Homo sapiens: one gene and its partners. The protein of the gene in region 5 interacts with the protein of the main gene of each other region in a pairwise test. Each region holds a gene or a part of one and is shown on either strand. Other genes may lie near its edges. The genes, in order: EIF3A, LCP2, KIAA0232, TULP3, WNK1, FAM53C and HDAC9.

The links.
Region 1: the proteins of WNK1 (region 5) and EIF3A interact in a two-hybrid assay, tested with the Homo sapiens proteins (one large-scale study listed by IntAct).
Region 2: the proteins of WNK1 (region 5) and LCP2 interact in a two-hybrid assay, tested with the Homo sapiens proteins (one large-scale study listed by IntAct).
Region 3: the proteins of WNK1 (region 5) and KIAA0232 interact in a two-hybrid assay, tested with the Homo sapiens proteins (one large-scale study listed by IntAct).
Region 4: the proteins of WNK1 (region 5) and TULP3 interact in a two-hybrid assay, tested with the Homo sapiens proteins (one large-scale study listed by BioGRID and IntAct).
Region 6: the proteins of WNK1 (region 5) and FAM53C interact in a two-hybrid assay, tested with the Homo sapiens proteins (one large-scale study listed by IntAct).
Region 7: the proteins of WNK1 (region 5) and HDAC9 interact in a two-hybrid assay, tested with the Homo sapiens proteins (one large-scale study listed by IntAct).

Annotation. Positions count from the first base shown.
Region 1 is NC_000010.11:119,056,337-119,060,625, reverse strand, and holds part of EIF3A (eukaryotic translation initiation factor 3 subunit A), read left to right. Parts: intron 1-487; exon of another isoform or gene 488-615; intron 616-907; coding exon 908-1,024; intron 1,025-1,228; coding exon 1,229-1,414; intron 1,415-2,322; coding exon 2,323-2,670; intron 2,671-3,585; coding exon 3,586-3,690; intron 3,691-3,772; coding exon 3,773-3,886; intron 3,887-4,289. UniProt on the Homo sapiens protein: RNA-binding component of the eukaryotic translation initiation factor 3 (eIF-3) complex, which is required for several steps in the initiation of protein synthesis.
Region 2 is NC_000005.10:170,252,436-170,256,724, reverse strand, and holds part of LCP2 (lymphocyte cytosolic protein 2), read left to right. Parts: intron 1-149; coding exon 150-199; intron 200-3,511; coding exon 3,512-3,606; intron 3,607-4,154; exon of another isoform or gene 4,155-4,213; coding exon 4,214-4,289. UniProt on the Homo sapiens protein: Adapter protein primarily involved in signaling pathways within T-cells, as well as other immune cells such as platelets, mast cells, and natural killer (NK) cells.
Region 3 is NC_000004.12:6,858,438-6,862,726, forward strand, and holds part of KIAA0232 (uncharacterized protein KIAA0232), read left to right. Parts: coding exon 1-69; intron 70-2,463; coding exon 2,464-4,289.
Region 4 is NC_000012.12:2,928,667-2,932,955, forward strand, and holds part of TULP3 (tubby-related protein 3), read left to right. Parts: intron 1-298; exon of another isoform or gene 299-359; intron 360-1,581; coding exon 1,582-1,679; intron 1,680-2,370; coding exon 2,371-2,574; intron 2,575-4,289. UniProt on the Homo sapiens protein: Negative regulator of the Shh signaling transduction pathway: recruited to primary cilia via association with the IFT complex A (IFT-A) and is required for recruitment of G protein-coupled receptor GPR161 to cilia, a promoter of PKA-dependent basal repression machinery in Shh signaling.
Region 5 is NC_000012.12:880,815-885,103, reverse strand, and holds part of WNK1 (serine/threonine-protein kinase WNK1), read right to left. Parts: coding exon 4,105-4,289; intron 3,413-4,104; coding exon 3,315-3,412; intron 3,194-3,314; coding exon 3,031-3,193; intron 2,162-3,030; coding exon 2,045-2,161; intron 1,710-2,044; coding exon 1,536-1,709; intron 1,331-1,535; coding exon 1,273-1,330; intron 984-1,272; coding exon 861-983; intron 456-860; coding exon 1-455. UniProt on the Homo sapiens protein: Serine/threonine-protein kinase component of the WNK1-SPAK/OSR1 kinase cascade, which acts as a key regulator of blood pressure and regulatory volume increase by promoting ion influx.
Region 6 is NC_000005.10:138,340,826-138,345,114, forward strand, and holds part of FAM53C (protein FAM53C), read left to right. Parts: intron 1-358; 5' UTR 359-391; coding exon of another isoform or gene 392-439; 5' UTR 440-510; coding exon 511-588; intron 589-983; coding exon 984-1,041; intron 1,042-3,999; coding exon 4,000-4,289.
Region 7 is NC_000007.14:18,645,515-18,649,803, forward strand, and holds part of HDAC9 (histone deacetylase 9), read left to right. Parts: intron 1-2,270; coding exon 2,271-2,484; intron 2,485-2,951; coding exon 2,952-3,169; intron 3,170-4,289. UniProt on the Homo sapiens protein: Responsible for the deacetylation of lysine residues on the N-terminal part of the core histones (H2A, H2B, H3 and H4).

The DNA of each region.
Region 1 (4,289 bases), on a different chromosome or scaffold from region 5:
AATTAGTCTATTTATTAATTTGAAAATCAGAATTATTATATTTACATATTTTGTAACGGACGCTTTTGTTTTTTGGCTGAACACTGTCTTTGGGCATTTTTCCTTGTTAGTAATGTAGGGCTACCTTATTCCATTTAAGGTACTGTGGTGTATTTATTCAGACTCTCTTGATGAAAACCTGTATTCCTAGATTTTTTTTTTCCCTGTTAGAAATCTTGTAGCATTGAGCATCTTTCATACATGTATCTTTGCATACTTCTATTACTTTCTGTGGCATAAGAAGTGGAATTAGTCATAGGGTTTATGGATTTAAAGCTTTAATAGCTATTCAGAAGCCTGGATTAATAGACCCCCCACCATGAGTGAATGAGACAGCCTTTTCATATATTTTAGTCCAGGGGCTTAAGTCAGTAAGTGCTCCCATTTTGTTTTCCATTTGTTGCATTTGGGAAGGAGGGCGTTTTATTATATTTTCATCTCAGTATTTGTGCACATTTCATTGACCTGCTTTCTTTTATGTGAGTAGTGTTATTTCTTATGTGCTATACAAATAATTGAAGGCTAATTAGCAGTATAACTATAAATAGTAATGCTGCCAGTCTCCTTCAGACAAAAATTCTATAAGAAGTGTTTAAATATATTCGGTAAGTAGCAGGTTTTTAGGCTTTTTTGTTTTACAACAACTAGGATTTGAAAAGATTATAGGTTTGAGGAATAGTATGATAATGGTTCTCAAAGCATGGAGTTTAGAGTCGATGGTCTGGGATTAGCATTCTGGCTTTAACAATGTACTGCTAACATAAATTCTCTGGCATAATTTCTACTTCCCATGACTGTCATGAGATTGCACATAAAAAGTGCTGAATAAACAGTGGCTAGTGTTATTAACCCTTTGTTTTCTATGCAGGTGTCACAGATTTATCAGAGCATTGAGTTTTCTCGTTTGACTTCTTTGGTTCCTTTTGTTGATGCTTTCCAACTGGAACGGGCCATAGTAGATGCAGCCAGGCATTGCGACTTGCAGGTAGGTATGTGCTGTAAGGAGACAGGAGAAGGCCCTTGAGGGCTAGAAAGACACATACCTTCTGTTTCTCAGCTTTTGGTACAGTGATACCATTTTAAAGTTTACTGAGTGAACTTTTCCAGCTTTTGTATATGACATTCTTCTGTTACTTTTTGACTTCATGCTTACTTGTGGATTTAACCATTGATAATTTAATTTTCAAAGGTTCGTATTGATCACACTTCTCGGACCCTGAGTTTTGGATCTGATTTGAATTATGCTACTCGAGAAGATGCTCCGATTGGTCCTCATTTGCAAAGCATGCCTTCAGAGCAGATAAGAAACCAGCTGACAGCCATGTCCTCAGTACTTGCAAAAGCACTTGAAGTCATTAAACCAGCTCATATACTGGTATGCATCTTCCCGGGGAAATAAATCCCAGAAGTTTTGAGGGACTCTTAACGCCATGCCATGTCTTTTACAAAAAGGTTTGAGACAATATCTGAGAGAAGGGATTTATGATATGTTTCCTATAGAATTGTACTTGGTAGTTTTGTTATTTGATCAAATACACAAATCATTGAGCTTTCTTCCATTGAACAAAATACTACTCTGTGTAGGTAATGTAATAGGGTGGATTATGTTACAGAAACAACAGAGTGGACATAGGATTCCTCAAATAGTGAAATACAGTGACTGGATTTTTCCCTCCTGCTTAAGTTATTTCTTTTTTTTCTTTTTTGAGATGGAGTCTCACTCTCACCCAGGCTGGAGTGCAGTGATGCCATCTCGGCTCATTGCAATCTCTACCTCCTGGGTTCAAGCAATTCTTGTGCCTCAGCCTCCTGTGTAGCTGGGACTACAGGCACGTACCACGTGCACAGCTAATGTTTTGTATTTTTAGTAGAGATGGGGTTTCACCATGTTGGCCATGCTGGTCTCAAAGTCCTGGCCTCAAGTGATCCACCCGCCTTGGCCTCCCAAAAGTGATGGGGTTACACGCATGAGCCACTGCCTGTAACAAGTTATTTCTTGTATGTGAGCTCTGTTAATGAACACCTAAGGTAGGTTTGGTGCAGAGAAAAGTTGTCTTATCTAGGAGAGCTTCTTTAGCTGCGTCATTGCTATTAAAAGACTGAATAGGAGCAACACCATAGCATTTAATACCGAAAACAAACAGCTTGGATAGTGTCATCTTCCATTATCAAATGCAGATACATAGAAAGGCAGTACATCAGGATTATTTTGTAATTTCTTTGATGCCTAATACCAGAGAATGTTAATTTTGGTCATGTAAAAAAATTCATTTGTTTTTGAAGCAAGAGAAAGAAGAACAGCATCAGTTGGCTGTCACTGCATACCTTAAAAATTCACGAAAAGAGCACCAGCGGATCCTGGCTCGCCGCCAGACAATTGAGGAGAGAAAAGAGCGCCTTGAGAGTCTGAATATTCAGCGTGAGAAAGAAGAATTGGAACAGAGGGAAGCTGAACTCCAGAAAGTGCGGAAGGCTGAGGAAGAGAGGCTGCGCCAGGAAGCAAAGGAGAGAGAGAAGGAGCGTATCTTACAGGAACATGAACAAATCAAAAAGAAAACTGTCCGAGAGCGTTTGGAGCAGATCAAGAAAACAGAACTGGGTGCCAAAGCATTCAAAGATATTGATATTGAAGTACGTAGCATCTTAGTTATTAAAAAATTAGTTTTATCCAGGTATTTTGTACTCTTAGAACCACAGTCCTTTACCATTTGTTGGCTTACTGGGTTATTTCATGCATTTTGGTACAGCTGGTCATGACTAAATCTGTGAGTAAGCATATGTTTATTGCTCTGTGAAGTTTTGTGTTTTTTTTGAGACGGAGTATTATCTTGTCGCCCAGGCTGGAGTGCAGTGACGTGATCTCAGCTCACTGCAACCTCCGCCTCCCGGGTTCAAGTGATTCTCCTGCCTCAGCCTCCCAACTAGCTGGGATTACAGGCGCCTGCCACCATACCTGGCTAATTTTTGTATTTTTAGTAGAGACAGGGTTTCACCATGTTGGCCAGGCTGGTCTTGAACTCCTGACCTCAAGTGATCTACTTGCCTCAGCCTCCCAAATTGCTGGGGTTATAGGTGTGAGCCACCACACATGACCTGTTTCATAGACACCTTATACACATAGCCTGAAGGTAATTTTGTACACTATTTTACATAATTTTGTGCATGAAACAAAGTTTTGAATGCATTTTGACTGACCTGTCACATGGGTCAGGTGTGGAATTTTACACTTGTGGCACCATGTTGGTGCTCAGAAAGTTTTAAAATTGGGAGCATTTCAGATTTTGGGTTTTTGGATTAGGTTTGCTTACCCTATTTAGTAGAGTCTGGGTAGATGTAGGTTGGAGTAGTGAGAAAAGGATGTATGGATATTTTTTTCCTTATGGTCAAATGGAAATAAGGCTATTGTATAATATTTTTACATTTCCTAAATTATCACCCATTGTAACAATAAAAGCAATGTAGGATTTTATTCTAGAAAGCAGTGAGTTATGTTAGGCATTGCTTGTTTCTCTTTATTAACAATTGTGCATTTGTATTACCTTTCAGGACCTTGAGGAATTGGATCCAGATTTTATCATGGCTAAACAGGTTGAACAACTGGAGAAAGAAAAGAAAGAACTTCAAGAACGCCTAAAGAATCAAGAAAAGAAGGTAAATGAAAGGGTTGGTAAACCTTTAACATACCAAGTTAAGAGAGATTTTTTAAAACTACGTGTGTTTTCGTGTCATTCAGATTGACTATTTTGAAAGAGCCAAACGTTTGGAAGAAATTCCTTTGATAAAGAGCGCTTACGAGGAACAGAGAATTAAAGACATGGATCTGTGGGAGCAACAAGAGGAAGAAAGAGTAAGTTTTTTATTTAATTGTAATATTTTTAGATTGTAATAAAATCCTCTGCCAGTAATGGAACCAAGGATTCAGAATTGCTTTATTTTGTATTCTTCTGCTAGAAATGGTGCTCTAATGGCTGCCTATGAACAGATTGGTAGAAAGAGGGAAAATTTCACAATAGAGATTACAAACGAAACTTGGAAAACAAAGGACAACTGAAAAGCCCATTTTATAAAAAACTGCTTTATATACACTTTAAATGGGTAAATTGTATGGCATGTTTATACATCTCATAGTTTTCATTTTACTTGCAGAATTGTGCAGCCATCTCCACAATCTAATTTTAAAACACGTCTCAAAAAGAAGTTCTAAACCCATTAGCAGTAGTCATCCCTATTCTTCCCCACCACCCCAGCCC
Region 2 (4,289 bases), on a different chromosome or scaffold from region 5:
CCTGTGCCCAGCCCCCATGGTTTTGGGGGCAGCAGGGAAAGTGATACCAAATCAAGAAGCATTTGCAGCCTGGCTTCCCTAACCCAGCTCCCCTGTCTGGCCCCATCACCCCAATCCAAATAAATTTTGTTCTTTTTCTGTCTCCTCAGTAACAGCAGTTTTCCACAGAGTGCCTCCCTGCCACCATACTTCTCTCAAGGTTTGTACTCTGGGCTTTTGTGACGTGCTTCAGCCATCAAGCCTTTATGACTGGATCCCTAACCTGTCCCAAAAGCTTTCGACAAAGGTTTTATTGTTTCCTAAAAGCATCTGATTTCCTCATTCAACATTTAATTCCGTGTCTGCAGTGTGCCAAGGGCTGTCGGAATGATAGGATAGTACCTAAAACACAACACATACACACACACGTATACATATACATGCCCATACACACATGCACATATACATGCACACACACACATGCATACACATGTACACATATATACATGTGCACACAGGTATACACATATATACACATACACAATACATGCACACACATGCACATGCATACACACATACATACATGGACACACCTACACACACTTCACCAGGAAGCCAGCCCTCATCCCCAATCTTCCTGTGCAGAACTATTCCTCCAGCTCCGGTTTCCCTACGGAATCCTCAGAATCCTGTTTGCCTTTCTCTGCAGTTTTAGATTTCCATGATCAATCTGTCCATGGTTGTGAGTTGGGGAGCATGTTCAAAATACAAACTAAGAGAACTTAACGTCACAGATTCTGATTCAGTAAGTCCGGAGTGAAGTCAGGGACCTGTGTTTTTAATAATACCACCTCTGGACGTCCATGATTAGTATTCGCTTAGAGTGTTCTGCAACTTGAAAGTGCATATAGATCACCTGGGAATTGTGTTAACATGCAGATTCTAATTCAGGAGGTCTGGGGTGAGGCCTGAGTTTCTGAATTTCTAACATATTCCATGCGATGCTGTGACTGCTGGTTCATGAACCACTTTGAAAGGCACTGGGGCAGGACTAATTTGTGCTTTTTATCCTTAAAGACTTGCAAGTGACAGGCACTTGGTAGGCACTTTAAAAATGCTTGTCGAATGAGCATCAAATGACTAGGGAAAGTTACCCAACTCTAGTAAGTAGCATTCCAGGAAACTGGCTTAGCATTGCCAGATTTTCCAATTTTTTTCTCAAGAAAAGTGAAATTATTTAATTTTTAAATGTTGACTTAAATTTTTAAAAAATGCTGTGAAGAATGACAACAGAAAAGCCACTTTTTTTGCAGTCATGTTCCACATGCAGTGTGTGCACGGGCCAGTGTGTGTTCAGTAGAAAACTATGTTAGTAAATGTGAGTTGATAGCCTGAGAATCAACATTTTTTCCAAGAACACATCTAGGGTATTCAGTTGGATGCATCATTCCATAGAGGGGCGAGATCCCACTGCTGACGCCAGTGGCACCCACTAAGTTTTCAATGTTTTCTAAGCATTTGAGGTTATGGTGGTGTCCACGTTCACCACATGGTTTTCACAGTTTCTCGCCCAACCCCTAATTTTCCACAATCCCCAAAATTCTCTGTGTTTTGCAAACACACATTTGTGTTACCTCCTTGCCTCTGTAGCCATCTGAGTCCCAGACACATCACAGCATTATTTTCCAAAGCAAGTTCCACAGATCTCCAGTTTTATGAGTCTGTGATGGGGCTTATTAATGCAAATAGTTAATTATTTTTGGAACATTAGCTTGATCCAAATTGATCTCTTTTCCCCTAAGACTGCCAGGACACCTGGTCCTCGGTCTTCTCTACTGGTTCTACTGGTTGTTCCAACATCAGAAGGATAAAGTTTGTGCTGTGCATTGCCCAAAAACCTGTCATGACTCCCTTGAGAGTCTAGATATTAAGGGTGGTAGGTGACTGCAATAAAAAAGTGTATGTGCTTCTCTGTTGTAACTTAGAACTCTATGATGCTGGCCTGCAGGTGCAGAGGCAGAAAGAGAATCATTTCTTAACTGTAGAATGGCCATGCAATGCGGGCCTTGGTTCTGTTACTCTCCTGTATTGTTAGGTTTCATTCATTCAACAAGCATTATAAAAGTGCAAGTGTTGGACTGCAAAAAAAATGGGGATGGGGAAGATCTGTCTAGGCACTGGGAACTTGGAGAAGGAAGGCACTGGCAGCTCAGGGCCAGCTTGTTTAGAAACAGGGAAGGAGCATCTTAAACAATCCTGTTGATGTGGCTCAGGAGACTTGTTTAAAAACAGGGAAGGACCATCATAAATAATCTTGATGATGCGGCTCAGGAGGCTTTAGCCCTTACAGGTGACTCTCCTCTCCTCAGTGGTGTAACAAGGTAGACGTAGTGACAATCCGTGGTGTAGAACCACCGGAAGTACTTGCTAACATGCAGATTTCTGAGCCCCAGGTGCTCGCAAGTCGCCCAGGGATTCTGACTCATGCACAGTAGCATTTGGTAACCACAGGTTTAAGTTTTGGCTTTGCCACTGATAGCGCATGATTTGCTTAGCCTCTGAGCCTGTATTTCCCCATATGCAAAATGAAGACAATACCTACCTTGTAATGTTGCTGTGAGGATTAAAAAAAATGTACACACGATACCTTACTCAAGATCTGGACAGAGTTGTGCTGAATAAATATTTGTTGAAGGTATGAATGAATGATGGTTAAATAATTAAGAGAACATTTGACTCACAGAATTTTTCTGTTTTTAACCACAGCCTGGCACATAGAAAATACCCTGGGCAACTGCAATAAACACAACTAAACCTTTCCTGAGATTAGGAAACATTCTCCTAAAGTTTCAAGGAACTGTAAATGAGAAAAAAGAGTTTTAGAGAAGATGAGGCACAAGCACTGGGTAATTAATAGTTGCCCAGTAAAAACTTCCTGATCTGTAGTGCCTTCTATGTGAGTTGAACAGTCTACCTGTTTAGTTAGAACAGCGGGTAGCCAACTTTGATTCTAAAAGCTAGCAATATTCTCAAGGTAATTTTGTCTTCTCTTGGGTCACTTACATTTCTTTTTGTGGAAACATTAAGAACATAATTATCTTCATCATTGCATTGTCCCTACATCAGCTGTTGGGAATCCATTCTGCCTATGATGATATTATAAGAATCTATGAAAAATTTGTCTCTTGAGCATTCATTTTGACGTTCACATTCATTAAAACAATTGCGAATTTTTTTATAAAGGGATCTAGTCACTTTATATTATGTAACATGCACATTTAGAAAAATCACTCAAAGTTGAGGTTCTCTTCTCAAAGTTTTACTGGCATGATTACAGAATAATGCCTGAGCAGCCCCCATGGTTTCAAACAGATGAAAATTATTTTTGAAGCCCTTGTTTCTTAAAATGCGAACTATAGGACCAATCGCAAGGGTATTTTTTTGGGGGAGTGGGGGGAATGTGTTTTGTGTTTTGATAGCAGCAAACAATAGCTTACAGTAAATTAACTGTCAGAATTCTATACTTTTGAAGGCCCTAGCAACAGACCACCTATCAGAGCCGAAGGCAGAAACTTCCCCTTGCCACTTCCAAACAAACCTCGGCCCCCATCCCCCGCGGAGGAAGAGGTAAGAGAGCATGTTTTTATTTTTGTTTGTTTGCCTTTTCCCTGGTAAAAGAATCACCAGAAACTCCCATTGAATGTTCTTCTGTACTTTTATCTTCCCTTTGTTTTATTTTATTTATTTGAAAAAAAAGTTAAAGGAGAAGATCCAGATGAACAATATGTTCTTTTCCCTTGGCGTTCTTTCAGACGCTTTCAATGGCAAACATGTGTTTTGCATTAAACAGCAAGAAAAATAATCCTGTTTTTTATGTTTATGACCTTGATTCGTCACTTAACTGCTCAATAACCCATTTTTTTAATCAAGCAGGTTATTATGCTAAACTGAAGAAATTATTGTATCTGTATCTTTCCTGAAGAGGTTCCATACTGTAAGGAACTCTTATTCACAGGCATTTTTGCAACCAGTGTCATGATAAAAAGCAGTTCGCACAAAATATCTTCTATTTAGCCCCAGCTAAATGACTCTGAATGCAAATTAAGAAAACAAATGTTTCAGACCTCCTGGAATTGAGGTGTTGATTTATGGAAATGATTACTCAGAGGCTTTTCTTTTCACTTACATCTGTAACTGTAAAATTTATTCAGTTTCTAAAAATTTACATTTTCAGAATTCATTAAATGAAGAGTGGTACGTTTCTTATATTACCCGACCAGAGGCAGAAGCTGCTCTTAGAAAGATAAACC
Region 3 (4,289 bases), on a different chromosome or scaffold from region 5:
CAAAAAGTTAGAGGGGTCTCCCTCTCCAGAGGCAGAATTATCCCCTCCAGCAAAGGATCAAGTGGAAATGTATGTAAGATTGTATTCGGTAATAAAGTGTGCATTTGTTAAAATCAGATGAATAACTGCTACATGGTTTCCGTTTTCTGTTTGTCATCTTGTTTAGTTTCATTATATATAATGTAAGAAACATTTATCGAGCGCTTATATGCTTGACACTGAGAATTCAAAGGTGAAACAAGATGGTTCTGTCCTTGGTGTTCATATTCAATATTTGTGGAACAAATGAGTGAAACATAGAAGGTTATTATTTGCTAAGTCTATGTATGTACTATTACCTTTAATATTCACAACAGCCCTTTGAGACAGCTGTGAGAAATTAGGATTATCAGCCGGGCACAGTGGCTCATGTCAGTAATCCCAGCACTTTGGGAAGCCAAGGCAGGTGGATCACCTGAGGTCAGGAGTTTGAGACCAGCCTGGTCAACATGGTGAAACCCAGTCTCAAATATTAGTTGAGCATGGTGGTACATGCCTGTAATCCCAGCTACTCAGGAGACCGAGGCAGGAGAATTTCTGGAACCCGGGAGGCAGAGGTTGCAGTGAGCTGAGACTGTGCCATTGCACTCCAGCCTGGACGACAGAGCGAGACTCTGTCTTATTAAAAAAAAAAAAAAAAAAAAAAACAAGAAAGAAAAGAAATGATTATCCATGTTCACAAGCAAGAACACTGAGTTCCCACTGTTTACTGCAGAGGGAACATAGGCAATCCTTGACCTGCCAAACCTGCTTCCTAAAGATACTTTTATTTTTTTGTTCGTAAATAGTCTTAAAATAATCTGCATTATAAACAGACTTCCCTATTATACATTTTATTTTAATCTTTCGAACCTCTGAAACCTAAGAAAAAAATAGCATTTCCTTGGTTTGTATAGACCTGTATTATCCAGCACAGAAGCTGTAAGCCATGTGTGACTACTGAGCACTTGAAATGGGGCTGGTTCAAACCGTGATGTGCTGTCAGTGGACAATTCTCATTGGATTTCAAAGACTATATATAAAAAAAAGTAAAGTATTAAACATTTTAAAGTATTGATTACATGTTGAAATGATAATATCAGGAGTTTAGTTAAATATATTACTGGAGTGCATTTCACCTATTTCTTATGTTTTTAATGTGCCTACTAGAACACTTAAAATTACATATGAAGCTCAAAATATATTTCTGTTGGTCAACTCTGACATAGACTGAGAAAGAGAATCAAGTTCAGGCCCTTTGAAAACATGGCCTTTTACCACTTCATGTGTGACCTTGAGCATTGCCTCTGAAACAACAGTCCCCAGTAGCCAATGTGACTTTAAATTCTGCCCTTTGCAATCTGTTCTGCTCTGAAATCTTCAGTGGCCCCCAGTTTCCTAGCAAATCAAAAATACTTTCTCATTTTCAAGCCCCCTGAAACCAGCCTCCCTGGCTTTTTCTACGCTGCATTTCTGGTGATCACAGCTCTAGTTAGTTTTCCATTCTGTGAGCATAACATGTGTGTCTTGGTGTCCTCACACAGGCTCTCAGGCCTCACAGGTAGTACTCACTAAACTTGTGGAATAAATCTGGAATTTCAAGGCTCAGTTGTGGCCCACTTTAATTGTTGTAGGCCTCACCGACATCCTCTTTCTGAATACTTGAATGTGATCATTCCTACCCTTTCTGAGGGCCTGCTTCAATGCCAGGCAGTATGCTAGCAGTTACGTAAGAAGCTGCTGTTCCAACTCATTTTGCATATTAATTCCTTTACTCCTCACAACCCTGAGAGGTAAATATTACTAGCTCTATTTTGTAGGTGAGGAAACTGAGCTATGGAGAGGTTAAGTAACATGCCTAAGGTCACACAGCTAGTAAAGCAGGCAGAGCCAGGATTTGACCTCAGAGAATGTGGCTTCAGAGCTCATACTCTTGACTGATTGCTACCGAGCTTTTTAACCGCATATATTTTCAACGCTCACAATAACTTTGGGAGGTAAGTCATAGGATCACCATTTTGCAGTTGAGGAAATAGTCTGAAGCAGTAAATAATGAGCTTAAAGTCGCAAGCAATAGTGACTTAGCTGAGATTCAAATTCAGATAATGCTTACTGAAGAGACTGCATTCTTTCTTCTACTATTTGTCCTTTTTGACTTCTTAATTAAAATGCAAACTTTGAAGATAAAAACTGTCATCTTACATATTTTCTCAGTAATCTTACAGTGCGTATCACAGTGCTGAGCAAAATGGTGCTTGATGCATGGGACTAATCTTAAGCATATTTTACTGTATTATAAATTATTGTAAAGTTAATGATTCTTGGATGATGTGAATGTTGACACTACTAAAATGAAATATTCCATTCTTCTGGTTGGTAATGTTGTTTTACTGTATCTAAAAAATCTGCATACTCGTGTTTTGAAGTCTTTACTCTGTTTTTCAGGTACTATGAAGCATTTCCACCACTTTCTGAGAAACCAGTTTGCCTGCAAGAAATCATGACTGTGTGGAACAAGTCTAAAGTCTGTTCTTACTCTAGCTCTTCTTCATCATCCACAGCCCCACCAGCTAGCACAGATACTTCCTCTCCTAAGGACTGCAACAGTGAAAGTGAAGTCACCAAGGAAAGAAGCAGTGAAGTACCCACCACTGTGCATGAGAAAACCCAGAGCAAAAGCAAAAACGAGAAGGAAAACAAATTTAGTAATGGCACAATTGAAGAAAAGCCTGCTTTGTACAAAAAGCAAATCCGACATAAACCTGAAGGAAAGATTCGCCCTCGCTCGTGGTCTTCTGGCTCCAGTGAAGCAGGCTCAAGTTCCAGTGGGAATCAGGGAGAATTAAAAGCATCCATGAAGTATGTTAAAGTAAGACACAAGGCACGAGAGATTCGAAACAAAAAAGGGCGGAATGGGCAAAGCAGGCTTTCTTTGAAGCACGGTGAAAAGGCTGAAAGGAACATTCATACTGGAAGTAGTAGCAGTAGCAGCAGTGGTTCTGTCAAACAGCTGTGCAAGCGGGGTAAGAGACCTTTAAAAGAAATAGGGAGAAAAGATCCTGGGAGCACTGAAGGAAAAGACCTGTACATGGAGAATAGAAAGGACACAGAGTATAAAGAGGAGCCCTTGTGGTACACCGAGCCAATTGCTGAATATTTTGTTCCTCTGAGCAGAAAAAGTAAACTAGAGACCACATACCGAAACAGACAGGATACAAGTGATCTGACATCAGAGGCAGTGGAAGAATTGTCTGAATCAGTGCATGGTCTTTGTATCAGCAACAATAATCTTCATAAAACATACCTCGCAGCAGGTACTTTCATTGATGGTCATTTTGTAGAAATGCCTGCAGTTATAAATGAGGATATTGACCTCACTGGGACCTCATTATGTTCTCTACCAGAGGACAATAAATACCTGGATGATATTCATCTATCAGAATTAACGCACTTCTATGAAGTGGATATTGATCAATCCATGTTGGATCCTGGTGCCTCAGAAACAATGCAAGGAGAAAGTCGGATTTTGAATATGATTCGACAGAAAAGCAAAGAGAACACAGATTTTGAGGCAGAATGTTGCATAGTGTTAGATGGTATGGAGTTGCAAGGGGAACGTGCAATATGGACAGATTCTACCAGCTCCGTAGGTGCTGAGGGCTTATTCCTGCAGGACCTTGGCAATCTGGCTCAGTTTTGGGAGTGCTGTTCATCCAGCTCCGGTGATGCTGATGGGGAGAGTTTTGGAGGAGACTCTCCAGTTAGACTCTCTCCCATCTTAGACAGCACAGTGCTCAATTCACACCTGCTTGCTGGCAATCAAGAGCTCTTTTCAGATATTAATGAAGGATCTGGTATAAACTCTTGTTTTTCAGTGTTTGAAGTGCAATGCAGTAATTCTGTTTTACCATTTTCTTTTGAAACACTCAACTTGGGAAATGAAAATACAGATTCTAGTGCTAATATGCTTGGGAAAACACAGTCTAGATTGCTAATATGGACCAAAAATAGTGCCTTTGAAGAAAATGAACACTGTTCTAATCTTTCAACAAGAACTTGTAGTCCATGGTCCCATTCAGAAGAAACACGTTCAGACAATGAAACATTAAATATTCAGTTTGAAGAATCCACACAGTTTAATGCCGAAGATATTAATTATGTAGTTCCTAGAGTCTCGTCAAATTATGTAGATGAAGAACTTCTAGATTTTTTGCAAGATGAAACTTGCCAGCAAAACAGTAGAACTTTAGGTGAGATTCCTACATTAGTTT
Region 4 (4,289 bases), 2.0 Mb from region 5:
GCATGTTGGCTCACACCTGTAATCCCAGCACTTTGTGAGGCCAAGGTGGGCAGATCACCTGAGGTCAGGAGTTTGAGACCAGCCTGACCAACATGGTGAAACCCTGTCTCTACTAAAAATACAAAAAAATTAGCTGGGCTTCGTGGCGCACACCTGTAATCCCAGCTACCGGGGAGGCTGAGACAAGAGAATTGCTTGAACCCAGGAGACGGAGGTTGCAGTGAGCTGAGATGGTGCCACTGCACTCCAGCCTGGGCAACAGAGTGAGACTCCATCTCAAAAAATCATAATAATTTACCAGTGCTGCAGCTCTTTTTAGAATTTGTCTAGCAAGTTTTCCTGTTTTTACTGAAGCCTTCCCTTCCCTTCCAAATAACAAAAAGTACACTTTTTTTTTTTTTAAGAGTTCGGGTGGGCCGAGACGGGCGGATCACGAGGTCAGGAGATAGAGACCATCCTGGCTGACACGGTGAAACCCCGTCTCTACTAAAAATACAAAAATTAGCCGGGCATGGTGGCGCGCGCCTGTAGTCCCAGCTACTTGGGAGGCTGAGGCAGGAGAGTGGCGTGAACCCGGGAGGCGGAGCTTGCAGTGAGTCGAGATCGCGCCACTGCGCTCCAGCCTGGGCGACAGAGCGAGACTCCGTCTCAAAAAAAAAAAGAGTTCGGGTGTAATTCTGTCACCCAGGCTGGGGTGCAGTGGCACAAGCATAGCTCACTTTAGCCTCAAAATCCTGGGCTTAAGTGATCCAACCACCTCAGCTAGCTAGGACTACAGACACACAGGTACCATCGTGACCAGCTAATTTTTTTAAAAAAACTTTTTATGGAGACAGGTCTCAAACTGGTGGCCTCAAGCAGTCCTTCTGCCTCAGCCTCCCAAAGTGCTAGGAGTTCAAGCACGAGCCACTGTGCCCTGCCTAAATTTTTTTTGTTTTGTTTTTTTGAGACAGAGTCTCTGTCTCCCAGGCTATAGTACAGTGGCACAGTCTCGGCTCGCTGCAAGCTCCGCCTCCCAGGTTCAAGCGATTCTCCTGCCTCAGCCTCCTGAGTAGCTGGGACTACAGGTGCGTGCCACCACACCCGGCTAATTTTTTGTATTTTAGTAGAGATGGGGTTTCACCATGTTAGCCAGGATGGTCTCAATCTCCTGACTTCGTGATCTGCCCACCTCAGCCTCCCAAAGTGCTGGGATTACAGGCATGAGCCACCGCGCCCAGCCTGCCCTGCCTAAAATTTACAACTTTAATCAATTTTAAGTGTGAGATTCAGTGACATTAAGTGTATTAACAATGTTGTGCAACCATCACTACCATCCATCTCCAGAACTTTTTCATCATCCCAGAGACTTCACACCCATTCAAGATAATTCCTCATTCTCCCCTGCCCCCAGCCCCTAGTAACCTCTATTCTACTTTCTGTCTCTATGAATTTGCCTGTTTTATGTATTTGGACAAAATAGTTGTGTTTACGGTCAGAATAGTTAAGAATGTTTTAAGCAAGAAAATTAAAACTATCTTTGTTTCAAAGACCTTTTTTAAACAGTGTTGGCAGTGCTAACAGTTCTTCCTTTTCTGCTAGATATCTCTGAAAGTGTGAACTTCGATGAGGAGACTGATGGAATATCCCAGTCAGCATGTTTAGAAAGACCCAATTCTGCATCAAGCCAGAATTCAACCGTATGTAGTTCTGAAACTTCTTCCATTAGAGCTAATTTGACTCTTTCTCAAACATATCTTCAGTATTTATTTATTTATTATTATTATGTATTTTTTGAGGTGGAGTCTCGCTCTGTCACCCAGGCTGGAGTGCAGTGGCATGATCTCAGCTCACTGCAAACTCCGCCTCCCGGGTTCACGCCATTCTCCTGCCTCAATCTCCCGAGTAGCTGGGACTACAGGCGCCCGCCATGACACCCGGCTAATTTTTTGTATTTTTAGTAGAGACAGGGTTTCACCATGTTTGCCAGGATGGTCTCGATCTCCTGACCTCGTGATCCGCCCGCCTCAGCCTCCCAAAGTGCTGGGATTACAGGCATGAGCCACCGTGCCCAGCCCTCAAACATATCTTCAGTATTTAAATACCATTACTGAGTGAGGGTTCCTTCAGAAGTGTAAGCTCAAATTTAGTTTATGATCTAATTTTTTCTGTCTCAGGTCAGCTATTGTGAGGCTTTGTCCCATTTTGATACTTACTCTTCATTACTCTCAATATTCATATACTTAATTTAACTTTTCAGTTTTCCTCATTCTGTCAGAAGACTGAAGACACGGGTAAATTACTAAGTTGCTTTGTCCACTAAGTGTTTTTCAAAGAGAATCAGATTTTGAGTCTCGGCCTGTTGTTGCTCATGTATGGCTGTCCTTTCAGGATACAGGCACTTCCGGTTCTGCTACTGCCGCCCAACCAGCTGATAACCTCCTGGGAGACATAGACGACCTGGAGGACTTTGTGTATAGTCCTGCCCCTCAAGGTGTCACAGTAAGATGTCGGATAATCCGGGATAAAAGGGGAATGGATCGGGGTCTCTTCCCCACCTACTATATGTACTTGGAAAAAGAAGAAAATCAGAAGGTATGAGAATTGATTTCTAAGAAAACTCTTGAGAGAGAGAAGAATGTTGTGGGAATAGATTGTTGATGGGCCTTAGGGAACTAACTCTGGTATTAGACCAAGCCAGCTGGAAGTAGATTGTATCTTTCAGTCCCCAGATGCTGTGTTCTCATTTTCTGCAAAGAGCTCATGGTCTAATAGGCAGCAAGCTCTACCCTCCCACAAATAAGAGCTTTATCCACGAAGTGGGAAAATGGACGGGTAGTTGTTAATGTAATTATTTTCACCTGTCTCCCATGATTGAGTTTTTGAATGTTACTGTTTGTTCTTTTGGTTTTTCTTTTTATTACGGAAGAACATGACATTGTGGAAGGAGAGTGAGTTTTAGGGAATAGGAGGAATTAGAAATACAGAAGGACCTACAAGTTAAATGTCTTGTTTCTCACCCTAGAAGTTCTAATTTATTTTATAAGTTTGAGCCAGCGATGAACTTTATTTTATTAATTTTGTATTAATACCAGGTCTTAACAGATGATTTTAAGAGCCTAGAAATAAGATAATGATACTAGGTGTTAATTCTTCTAACCACCATTTATTGAGTGTTTACGACAGACCAAGCATATGCATATATATCTATATATATTATCACCTGTAATCCTTGCAGCCACCTTGTTAGGTAGGATTTCTTACCTCTGCTTTAAAGATGAGGTAACTGGGGCTTAGGGAGTGACTTACCTACCCCACGTTGCACTAAGTGGTGGCAGAGCCAAATTCAAACCTATTTTGCATAATTCTAAAGTCTTCCTGCTTAGCCACTGCCACTCTCCTGCTTCCCTATTATGGTCCTAGTCTAGGAGAGTTTAGGAAGGATGCCTATATAGGATGGTATTCATGCCATTGAGGTCACAGTGGTTTAACACAACAGCAGTATAGAAAAAAGAGTATTTCCTCCCTGGAGAGGCTTCCCTTTTGTCCCTTCTTGCCCTTTGCCTAATCAGAGTCTTTCCTGATGTGCTTCACCAGATGTGGTTGACATTCCTCTGTCTGTGTCCCCATGGCATGAAGAAAGCTATCACAGGCCAGGTGCGGTGGCTCACACGTATGATCCCAGCACTTCGGGAGGCTGAGGCAGGTGGATCCCTTGAGGACATGAGCTCGAGACCAGCTTGGCTAACATGGGGAGACCCTGCCTCTAGCAAAAAATTAAAAAATTAGCCAGGAGTGGTGGCATGCACCTGTAGTTCCAGCTACTCGGGAGGCTGAGGCAGGAAAATCACTTGAACCTGGGAGGCAGAGGTTGCAGTGAGCTGTGATTGCACCACTGCACTCTAGCCTGGGTGACAGAGTGAGACCCTATCTCAAAAAAAAAAAAAAAAAAAAGCCATCACAGTAAAGAATGGGAAGGTTTTCAGGATCCTGTCTCTCCTAAGGTTGGAAAGACTCTTAATCATGGCATTGGATGAACATTGATTGTTATTTATTTATTGGATTTTGCAAGGTTGCCCAGGCTGGCCTTGAACTCCTGGACTCCAGTGATCCCTCTACCTCAGCCTCCCAAGCAGCTGGGATTATAGGCTCATGCCACCTGGCCCAGCTTTGGAGATTTTTTTTTTAACTGGAAGTTTTAGGGATGAAGTTGTAACTAATTATATGGAGAATCAAGCTAGTGAATTTAGAAAAACTGTATAGGAAGAAAACCCTGATAGTGAATTATTTTATTTTTATTTTTTATTTTT
Region 5 (4,289 bases):
GACTTGAAGTGACGGGGATGTAGTAGATATTGAGACAACTGCAGGTATTGTGATACTTGAAACTACGCTGGAAAGTACTGGTGATTCAGACACAGGTGGTATGGGGAGACCACCTGAAGTTACCACACCTGTGCTGGTGGCAACTCCAGCAATCCCCTCTTCAGTGGGCACTGTAACCTCAGACTGAATTACTGATGTGGAAATGTCATTAGGAGGGCTGCTTGTTGCAGGGACTGGTGCTGTGGCTGCTGCTGTGGTTGGGACTCCAGCAATGCTACTTAAGAAAGGAGGTACTACTGGAAATGTTGGTCCTGTATGACTAAAGTTTGGAGGTGCTGTGTTGGGTCCTTCTGTCATTTGGGCACGTCTAAGTTCAGAAAAGGCCTGTTGTAGACTAAGGGATGATGCAGAGTGAGACAAGTTCATTCCAGGGCTCTGAGCTGTAGAGGCAGCAACTGCAAAGGAATACAAAAAGATAAGAATCAGCTGATTTTAAAAGGATGGATTCAAAAGATTGTCTGCTAGCCTAAGTCAGCTCCTATAAATATCTGTTTTTGATAAAAAATATGGAGTAATCTTAAAACATAGACAACAGTACTAAGTGCAGAAATAAACACATACTACAATATCTATTATACAGACTATATCTTGGTATGGCCGTGCTTCTTGGCTTTTTCTGTAATTCTCTGTATTCTTCATCTATTTCCCTCTCCCATATGTTTATCTGTTGGTTATAACTTCAGTTTTCTATTCTTTTTTATTATCTGTGTCATCATAAATTACTGCTTTATGATTAAGCTTTCAACATAGCAGAGGCACTGTAGAATTTACATAACAATGTGGCAGAATCAATCCCTTACCTGTATCTGTTATTTCACTGGGGAAAACTTTTGATTCTCGTAATCGGCTTTCTGGCACAGGACTCACTATAAACCGCCTTCCCGCAGAATGAACAACTTGAGTTAAAGAACTGGTAGGAATGCCTGGTCAAAAACAAACAAACAAACGTAACTTAATAGCATTATTATTATAAATATTGTTAGACTTCATTATTGGCACATACAACTGCTTTTTTTGAGGCACGGTCTCATTCTCTCACCCAGGCTGGAGTGCAGTGGCGCGATCTCAGCTCACTGCAACCTCCGCCTCCTGGGTTCAAGCGATTCTCGTGCCTCGGCCTCCTGAGTAGCTGGGACTACAGAAGCCTGCCACCACCCTCGGCTAATGGCTTCTTAAGTCAAAGGTAAAAACAAGGAAAGAAAATAAATTCACCTATTTGCTGTGGCATGGAAGACGCAGGAATTGGTTGTTTGAACTCTCCTTCCAATTTCTACAACAAACAAAAGTGATTAAATACATTCTCAAATGCAATCTCAATGACTAGGCAAAGCAAACTGCCACATGTGAAGAGAACATAAAAGTTTGTTGTCGGTCATGGGTGTCAGGTGATATCACTGGACATTTTGCATAGCAAATTTAGAACTATGAAAATATTTTAAATCAACAAAGTTTCACTATGGGAGTGGTGAACCTACCTGAGAACCTGAAAAGCCATAGTCATCCTTTCCTTGTAGACTCTCCAATCCCTGATCACCCTCTGGTTCCACACTGACATCCTCACTGAGCATTTCATCAGCTTTTTCAATAATTTCTCGCACTTGATCCACAAACGACTCTCTCTCTATTGCTAGAATAAAGTCATTGTTCACCTGTAAAAGAAATGTGATGTCAGTCTAATTAGTGTCATTTCTCAAACTTTATGTCACTTTTATGACTTCTGTCCTATCTGCATACTTACCTATATTTTTATTTATTTTGTACTCAAGTTAGCTCTTCTCTTTTTAAGAACTTCAATATCTAGTTAGACATAGCCTAGACAAAAACATCACTAAATCACAGGTTGGGTGTGATAGTTTTATTCACATTGAAGTAAATGCATAACTTTAAAAAAACATGGATTATAAAATATGGCATATTTGCCTAGAGCAATGGCTATTAAGATCAAGTACTAAGGAAAAACCTAGAACTCCAAATGCAGACGTACCATAATTGTTGCTATCTCCTCGGGGTTGTCACCATCTAGGTCAAATTTGAATGTAACCATTTTCCTATTATGAGTCTCTAATTGACATTCTACTACTCGGTCTCCTTTATTTGAAACCTAAAAAGAAAAAAGGTACATCATCTCCAAAGACCATATTCAGCTTTATTACTGAATTTCAGAAAAGCAATGCAGATTAGCACTTGACTTTATGTCTAAGGAAGCATAGTGTTATCGCTGTTCCTTGGAGCACTAGTACTTTGTCTCTTAAACTGGTAGCAAGAAAAATCTTTGAGAAGACGTTAGCCTTTGAGCTACTTACTAAAACTCTCTATTCTTTTTCTAAAAGATAAGTAGTGCTTTATCATAGAAATATGGAATGTAAGAATATCATTTGGCTAATTATAAGATCCTATACATTCATCAATTCATCTAAGCCTTAAGAAATATTTAAATGATATTAACTGCTGGCCCTATCATAGCTTTATGAACTACCTTTTCATTTTTCTAAAAATGTGATATTTAAGTCAAAGAGACTGTGGGCATGAAATGAGAAGAGTACTATATAAATTATCTGGCTGGGTGCCTGTAATCCCAGTGGTTTGGGAGGCTGAGGCAGGTGAGTCACCTGAGGTCAGGAGTTTGAAACCAGCCTGACCAATATGGTGAAACCCTGTCTCTACTAAAAATACAAAAACTAGCCGTGCGTGGTGGCACGTGTCTGTAGTCCCAGCTACTTGGGAGGCTGAGGCAGGAGAATCGCTTGAACCCAGGAGGCACTGCAATCACAGTGAGAAGAGATCATGCCACTGCACTCCAGCCTGGGCGACAGAGCGAGACTCCGTCTAAAAAAAAAAAAAATTATCTGTCACACACAGATAGTTATCTTTATTTTATGAAGTGAGTGGTTTGGATTTGATGACCTCTAAAATCTTTTTCAGTGTCAAATTCCTTTAACAACATGAAACTCACAAATTAGGAATACTTACATTCAAAATTCTTAATTTTGGGCGTGAAGTTTTTTCATGTCGAGAGCGACTCCTTACAGATTTTCGGTAATGCCGTTTTGTAGTTCTTCCTTCATGCCTTCCACTGGAAGATGGGACGTTCTCATTGCCATCACTCATACCTGAAGCAACATCTGAATGTGCACTTTGAAATTTAAAAAGAAAAAAAAGTGCAGTTTATAATATGAGATTTAAAGGTCTGACAGTTTGGCGTTTCATACCGTCTTATTTACCAGTCAAGGAAGGAGAATTCTAGTTTTACGTACCTGTCTACAGAGGAAGCCAAAGTGGTCGGCTGGGTAGCTTGGGTCTGTGCTACTGCAACTGGCTCTGCAGGAGCAACCTGAGAGACTCCCTGAGTACTCTGTGAATCGAAAAGATAACTCAAATCTCGGTAGTAATAGATTTATCATTCACTATCCCCAATAATCTACTTATTTTTTTCCTTATCCCTCCCCACTACGTCCTAGAAGCACTAAATTTACTAGTAAATTCTCAATATTCAGCATCTAGAGATAATGGTCTTAAAATTCCAAAGGAAGTTGCTAAAGCTAGTCTCTGGTATAGACTGCATGGTATGAGGTCAGCCAACATATCTGCTAGGCAGTGTGAACCTACAACTTGCCATGCAGCCAGCATCTTACCAAGAGTGTGCAATAGCGCAGACAGAGCATAGTACAAAGATGAATTCAGATCTTCTCCTAGCAGGGCAAAAATGATTGCTGAGAGCACAGGAGGGTAAGATACTCTTATGACTGCCAATGGAAAAAGTTTGTGAAAGGACAAGAATAATGGCTAAAGTACTAGCTAGAGAAGTGAAGTGCTAATAGGGTTCATCTTCTCCAAGGCACACTCACTTCCCAACAGAACAGCCAGTGGAAACAAGGACCCCACATTGGCATTTCATTCTGCTGTAAGAAAAAGTCATGCAGAAGTTAGTTTGACATGGTCTCCAAATAAGTTCTAAACCAGGGGAGCCTGTTTCTTTCTCCTTTATCATTGTTGTCCAATTACATATATACGTTTTACATATAAACATGCAGTAATTCTATTTACCTCCAAAACTGCTTGCTGGGAGGATGTAGTGGGGGCTTGTGCTAAACTCCCTCCTGGCTGGGACACTTGAACCTGTCCTCCTACACCACCCATAGGAACTAAAAGATTTGATTCCACATAAGGCTGCACCACTGTGGGAAAGTACCCAGGTGTAGCCAGTACTTCTGTCGGCATGGGAGGGGATA
Region 6 (4,289 bases), on a different chromosome or scaffold from region 5:
AAGATAAAATACTGGGCTGATCTTGATGGAAATAATCATTTGGGCATCCCTCTCTCTCACTTGAGCAGCTGTTTTCTAAGTGGTGCTGGTATTCCAGTTAGAAACAACAGAGCATGAACCAGTTTAAGGGTAGCAAATAAGTTTCAACTTGATTGCCAACTCTATTTTATTTCATATCTGGACTGCCAAGTTCATAATTTCTGAAGCTGTGTTTAGGCTTAGCTGGAAAGAGCTGTGATCAATTGATGTCTGCCAGAGGCCTGGCTTAGGGGTGCTGTGGTATGTGTGCCATGCATTTTCCATCTCTGGACCAGGTGCATCTCTAATATCACTTGGGGCTGGTCCCTCTAATTGGCAGACTCAGCAGGCATGACTGGAGAGGGAAGTCCCAATGGTGCTAGAATGGTGCTGCAGTGGCAGAAGACGGCTCACAAGTGAGGTCTGGAAGAACAACAGGGAAGACATCCATCATTTGCTCCAAAGTGTGCAAGTCAAATCCTGGGGAGAATCATGATAACCCTGATCACTGAGCAGCTACAGAAGCAGACTCTGGATGAGCTGAAATGCACACGCTTCAGCATCAGTCTGGTAAAAGACCAGTCTTCCTGCTTCTCCACGACCCCCTCCCCCTTTTTTCTGAGGCTGATTGTTGCTATTACTTTACTCTTGTCCTGTGCTGTATGAATCATGGTACTTAACCTGGAAGAGCCCACTAATGGCTCAAAACCCAGCCCAAAAGGAAGGGGGCAGGGATTTTTCCACCGATAGAGAAGGGACAGCAAAACTTGGGTGGAGAAGGGTTTGAGATGTTGGAAGATGTGGATTGTTTGACTTACTAACTTTGGGAAGACAAGAGGAAGAACACTTAATGTCCCTAACATCCCTGTAGCTCATGAATCGCAGAGGAGAACTGAAGAGGGCTTCCTAGAAATCTGTCAGTGTGTCCTGAATCCAAATCATGATGGATATTCTCTCTTTCTTAGCCTTTGCCTGATCATGCAGACATCTCCAACTGTGGGAACTCTTTCCAGCTTGTGTCTGGTAAGGCATCGTGTGTGTTTGTGTACGTGTGTGTACCCATTCCTCTCTCCACACATTTCTATCATTGGTTTCCAGTGACCAGGGCTAGCGAGCCTACCTCTAGAACCTTCTTGCCAGGGTCAACTTCTGAGATTGACAGTTGTCTTTCATGTTCTAGCATGAAAGTTATCTGGTTGGTTTGCTCTTATTCTAGCTTTGTGGGGACTTGTATAATCTAATTTTTTGAATAGGTAATACATTCACATGGTTCAAAATTTAAAAAATAACAACAAAAAGGTTATGCTGAGAAAAGTCTCTCTTACTCTCCCGTTCCCTATCTACCCAGCTTCTACCACCTCCCTAAAAGTATTAGTTTCTTATACAGTATATGTGACTAGAATTTCTTTATATAAAAAGAAGCAAATGTATATATTTATTTCCTTTCTTTTTTAAGTTCTCGGATACATGTGCAGAACGTGCAGGTTCGTTACATAGGTGTACATGTGCCATGGTGGTTAGCTGCATCTATTTTATTTCCACGTTTTTAACACAAAAGGTTGCATACTATATATTATTTTGTACCTTTAAAAAAAAAAATGGGACCGGGCCTAGTGGGTCACACCTATAATCCCAGCACTTTGGGAGGCCAAGGTGGGCAGATCACCTGAGGTCGGGAGTTCAAGACCAGCCTGACCAACATGGAGAAACCCCATCTCTACTAAAAATATAAAATTAGCCAGGCGTCGTGGCGCATGCCTGTAATCCCAGCTACTCGGGAGGCTGAGGCAGGAGAATCACTTGAACCCAGGAGGTAGAGGTTGCGGTGAGCCAAGATTGCGCCATTGCACTCTAGCCTGGGCAACAAGAGCAAAACTCTGTCTCAAAAAAAAAAAAAAATTGCTGGGCACAGTGGCTCATGCCTGTAATCCTAGCACTTTGGGAGGCCGAGGTGGGCGGATCATGAGGTCAGGAGTTCGAGACCAGCCTGGCCAACACAGTGAAACCCTGTCTCTACTAAAAATACAAAAATTAGCCTGGCATGGTGGTACACACCTGTAATCCCAGCTACTCGGGAGGGCAAGGCAGGAGAATCACTTGAACCCAGGAGGTGGAGGTTGTGGTGAGCCCAGATCATGCCACTGCACTCCAGCCTGCACAACAAAGCAAGACTCCATCTCAAAAAAAAAAAAAACAAAAAACAAAAAAAACTTTAATATAGCTAGGAGATCTTTCCCTATCAGAATGCTGAGTATTCATTCCCTTGTTATATATAGCTACATATTATTACACTGCATAGATGTACAGTGGCTTATTTAATGAGTTTTCTATTGATGTGCATTTAGGTTATTTCTAATCTTGTTTGGATACATAAAACTGTAGTGGGCCAGACGTGGTGACTCATGCCTGTAATCCCAGCACTTTGGGAGGCCGAGGTGGGCAGATAGCATGAAGCCAGGAGTTCGAGACCAGCCTGGCCAGCATGGTGAAACCCCGTCTCTATTAAAAATACAAAAATTAGCTGGGCATGGTGGCAGGCGCCTGTAATCCCAGCTACTCAGGAGGCTGAGGCAGGAGAATCCCTGGAATCCAGGAGGCGGAGGTTGCAGTGAGCCGAGATCGCACCCACTGCACTCCAGCTTGGGCAACAGAGCGAGATTCCATCTCAAAAAAAAAAAAAAGAAAGAAAAAAGAAACTGTAGTGAATAACCTTGTACATATGTCATTTTTTCACATGTGAAAATATATCTGAGGTATAAATTCGTAGATTATTAATTACTGAGTTAAAGGGCCCCTGATCGTAGGGACATTTAGATGGAGGCATCACTGGTGGACAATCAGAACTCCCTAACTCGTGCTGCTCAGCAGTTCTGCATCTCATTTTCTTTTCTGGGATACCTAGCAAGGGAAGTGAGTTGGCAAAAACATGTTCATTCAGTCTCTTCCTCCTGTTTATTAAAGACTTGCTGAAAGCCAGGTATTGTGTCATAAGTATAGAGCAGGAACTCATGGTCCCTGCCCTCATAGTGGTTAGTAGAGGGAAGAACTATAGACCAAATACACTCAGTATGAATTTTGCCACCATCAAGTCTGACTTCGTATACTTGTCGTTTGCCCCAAATATCCAGCCCCTGCAGAATTCCAGCCAGCTAGCCAGAGGAGTTTGGATTAGGCCCTTTGTCCCTTAATGAGCCGTCTCCCAAAAGTCACAATTTTGGTTGGAATACAGTGAGTGAGGATTGTTTCTTTTAGTCCATTTTCCCTTCCTTCTCTTGGTCCCTCCATCTGTTTGGATTTAAGAGAAGGCCTAGGGGAAGGGAATCGGAATATGTGGGTGGCCAGACAGAAACGAAGATGAGCAGCACAAAGTCAGGGTTTCCCAAGCCCAGGTTTCACTGTCAAAGGCCTTCCCCACCCTGTTTGCCCTCCCTAGGAATAAAAGTGATCTCTTACCTGCCTGATTACCTCTTACTTCTTGGCAGTCCTAACTCCTGACTTGGTGCTGTTGACACATGAGAGGAGGAAAGGCCGAGAAAGAAGAGCATAGGCCTGCTTTTCAGCATCCAGGGCAAGCGTGGGGGAGGGGCGAGGGAGAGATGAGCAGGACACTCACAAACGTGTTTGTTTCTCTTGACTTCTTTTACCTTTGAGAGGGAGTGGCAGGCAGTAGATGAAATGTTTTTGATTCCAGGTAGTTGGTCACAATGGAGGCAATAGAGCATAGTGGTTTAAAAACCTAGCCTTCGCATCAGACAGACCTGGATTTGAATCCTCCTTTGGTCTTTTGAGTGCTATGTGATTTTGGGAAAGTTATTGAATTTCTCTTATCTGTGAAATGGGGATAATGATAACGATACTACCTACCTCATAAGGTTTTTGGAAATTTTCACATAAAATGCTCCATACATTATGTGGCAAATGGTAAGTTCTTAAAAAATGTAAGCTATCATTAATATTATTCTTATTATAAATGCCTTCCAGAAGGTGCTTCCTGGAGGGGCCTGCCCCACTGTTCCTGTGCTGAGTTCCAGGACAGCCTCAACTTCAGCTACCATCCCTCAGGCCTGAGCCTGCACCTCAGACCACCCAGTCGGGGAAACTCCCCCAAGGAGCAGCCCTTCTCCCAAGTCCTAAGACCTGAGCCCCCAGATCCAGAGAAGCTTCCTGTGCCCCCTGCCCCTCCATCCAAGAGGCACTGCCGCTCACTCTCAGTGCCCGTGGACCTGTCTCGCTGGCAGCCGGTGTGGCGGCCCGCCCCCTCCAAGCTGTGG
Region 7 (4,289 bases), on a different chromosome or scaffold from region 5:
GCAGAGAAAATGGAATACTAGAGATCTCTTTGCCAAAGCAGAGCTAAACTTGAAATGTTATTGTCATACTAGCAGAAGATGGCAATAATTATTCTAGGCATATTCCCTGAAACAGTGTCAATTTTAGTTGTAAAAAATGTGTGGGCCTTATCCAGAATAATTCATCTCTGAAATGTTAGTTAATTAAATTGTATATATACAGGGGTCATATGATACATTAGGTTTAGAGAGAAATTTATTCCAACTCTCATCACCAGTTTGGCCAATCTTTACCTTCAAGTCTTCCACTGAGTTGAATGTGTCAAGTTCACTTGTATGTTCAACACATAGTTTCAATGCGTATTTTAAAATCAACCTAAGAGATATTATATCTGGTATTGTCAATAGACTATAATGTCATTTTATGTGGTACTGTGTTCTTATACCAATGAGGAAAAAACAAAATTTGGATGTTGTCTTATATCTGGGGATTATAAAAGAAAGCATTGAAAATACAGAATTCAGCTATGCTCTTAAAATTCCACATGAAACATTTGTAAATGAAAAACAAAAAAAGGAATTAGGAATGAAACTAAAAATAAATATTCATGGATAATATTTTACAGTTATCACTAATTAAAAAATATTTTTCCTTCTCTATTTCCTGTCTCTTCTAATGATAAGTAAATACCAACCCAAAAACTTCTTATGACACATGAATAGGCATTTTATTTTTACTTATTTTTGTATGTTCTAAGCCACTCCTCTCAATAACTCACACATGGACCACTTTTAATGTGGTCAGGGAAAATTTTTTCCCAAAGGACCAAGTACTAAAGCCAGACCAGTTAATGTTTCAGAGGTAATACGATTTGGTACCATTGGATGAATAAACCAATGTGGTTTGGATTAAAGTTTCATTTTTCTTTGCTTCCATTTTGGTGTGGATGAGGCCATCACAATTAATTTTTCAAGTTTAGCATTGCTTTGCCAACGGGATTTGTAGTACTCCATTTCTACATTGAATACTGGGAAATTTTAAGGAAAAGAGGCCAGGACAAGGAATCACTTCTAGATTAAACATTGCATTGACTTACTGTGTGACTCAGACAAACCACTTACCTCTTTGTCCTTCAGTTTCTCCATTGCTGAAAATTGCTTCGCCTCCCTGGTGCACAGCAATTTTGAAAGATGAAACATGAGTTTTGAAAAGAAACATGCCACATAATTTTGAGGTATTAGAGTCCTGCTTTTGTAATAGCAAAATGACCACCATTCATTAAATCCTTTGAATAGGATAATTCATTATTGCTATTGATGATATAATTATTATTGCCTTATTACTGTGTTATCATACATTTCAAGTTCTTAATAGCATTTTTTGTAGTTTATTATACAAAATATCTAGAGTGTCATTTTCAATATTTAGAGATTTGGGTATCTGTTATGAATTAATATAAAATGTTTAAATCAAATTTCTGCATATTTTTACCTCCTTTCATTGGGTTATTTTAAGAATTTAATTTAAAAAATTAAACATTGGACACTTACAGCTCTGTGAAATTATTAGAAGCCATGTAGAGAAAGGGTAAATTGTTCCTTTTGCTTGCAACTCCAAAATTACAGTCCATCTTATCTCCAGCTTCTTAATCCCCATGATATAGTCTTTGAATAAATTTTACCTCTCCAGTATGCCTTTAACTTAAACAGTGTATAAAATATTTTAGAAATGTACTTTCCACTTATTAAGCCTGAAATAAGCATTTTTTGTTTTTTTATTGACATATAAAAGGTACATATATTTGTGGTTTACAACATAATGATTTGACATATGTATACATCGTAGAGTGACTTAAGCTAATTAACATATGCATTGTCTCACATACTTATTTTTTATGGTGAGAACACTGAAAATCTATTCTCTGAGAAATTTTCACATGTACAATATATTGTTATTAACTGTAGTCATCATCATGTACAACAGATCTCTTGAATTTATTCTTTCCACCTAAAATTGTGTATGTAGCATCACTTCTGATTTTAATTATAAAACCTTTTTATGTTCAATACAATGACAATATTAAATTGTCTTCAGTGCTCCAACCCTATTTTTATTCCTTCTTTTTTGAACTGAGTTAGTTTAAAAAGTCCATTTTCCCTGCTCAGCCATTGGGTAAGATGGGGCTTTTGTTTTGGGAAGCTACAGCATAGGAAACTTGTCTAATGATTTAGAGACCCAGTGACCCACATGGATGAAAGAGGATTAACATCTTTGTTATTTCTCAACACAGGCTTCGAATTCACTCAAAGAAAAGCAGAAGTGTGAGACGCAGACGCTTAGGCAAGGTGTTCCTCTGCCTGGGCAGTATGGAGGCAGCATCCCGGCATCTTCCAGCCACCCTCATGTTACTTTAGAGGGAAAGCCACCCAACAGCAGCCACCAGGCTCTCCTGCAGCATTTATTATTGAAAGAACAAATGCGACAGCAAAAGCTTCTTGTAGCTGGTAATTCATTATGGCACCATTTGCAGGTCATTTTAGGGTTTTATTTTATTAGTGATCCAGGATAATGTCTCTTTTACTCAAGACCCTGATGGAGATCCACAGTGCTATACAAAAGTTTCCCTGATACCTGGTACTGTGGGAAAGGCTATCATCTTTATTTATTCCTTCAGATCCACTTGGGGTAGGAGGACTCACCTCATTTAACCTTTATTCATACCAGACTAGGCTGTGGTGAGTCGTATGGTCAGATGCGTACCTGTCCAATGCCTTGACATTTCTCTCTTCCCACACCTGACCTATTCTTCTGTTGTTTGCCTGGTAGCATCACTAATTCACTAATTTTCTTACAGTTTATACCATGTATCTGTTTTCTTTGGCTTCTTATCTTTTCTTAAAATTGTGTGTGTGTGTATGTGTGTGTGTGTGTGTGTGTGTATACACACATATACATGTATTTTTTTTTTCAGGTGGAGTTCCCTTACATCCTCAGTCTCCCTTGGCAACAAAAGAGAGAATTTCACCTGGCATTAGAGGTACCCACAAATTGCCCCGTCACAGACCCCTGAACCGAACCCAGTCTGCACCTTTGCCTCAGAGCACGTTGGCTCAGCTGGTCATTCAACAGCAACACCAGCAATTCTTGGAGAAGCAGAAGCAATACCAGCAGCAGATCCACATGAACAAAGTAAGCCTCCAAGCCAAGTCAAAATGTTCTAACCGCCAGTTTGGAAATTGGGTATCTCTTCACTGATATGGGTGTCTAAGAGGAATGTTGATGGGAGTCACAGCAAAAAGGATGTGATCATCCTAAGCCTGCTTTCTTGGCTCAAGGACACCATCACAATATCAGTGTTTTAACCACCATTATGTTCATAAGACATTTGTAGCAAAATTGAGATGATACATTCACAAGATCTTTTTATGATCAGGTATATATTTTGGTACACAAGCCCATACGGGCATATGTATATGGAGCCTCATTTTTTAGTGTTGCAGAAAAAGTTTGAGGCAGACTTGAATGTGGTGTGTTGACATGTCAAAAAGTTTGTACAGGTGATGACAGATAGGCCAAGATTAGCCAGTAAGGCACTTCTCAGCAACTTGTATGCATCTACGTTACATTTATTTTGCGAATGCCCCACTTCATTCCAATAAGCGTTTGGAGTAGTTTCTCGGAAACTTGTGATCATTTCTTCCTGGAAGTCTTAATGTTGCTAAAATAGACAGCGGATGTCTGTACCGTACCACATCCTTAGGAGCTCTCCTGCTGAGGCAACTACAAAGAAACAGTGATTGCAGCATAATATCAGACAGGCCAGTAAAGGATTTTCTATGAATTCGTAAGCAAAATGATATTAAAGAACCTGGTCTGGACAGTTTTTCCACTACTTTTTGCTGTGGTAGGCTTAAAAAAGCACCATCTTCTCATTCCTGGAAAATTCCTGGAAAATATTAAGGTCCTGAGTATTAAAATTCTATTCCCTTGCCTTTGTGCTGTATCATCTACAAGTTATGTTACAGAGGCATGAGAGGCATGATATTGCAAACTGATACTTTGTTTACTGATAAATGGATAGCTAAAACCTGGCTTAGTAATAACTTTGTTGTACTATGATGTAAGAAACAAACAAAACAAAACAAAATAAACTCTCATGGGCAGAGGCTTAATCATCTTTCTAACGGCAGTAGGGGAAAGGGATCTTCATCACTTGCTGGTTTTATGGCAAGTGTTGCTGGAGTTTTTCTCTTCTTTTGGCCTCCATCGTAACAAGGGCAGAGCCATGAAGGAAGCATGGATTGGATAC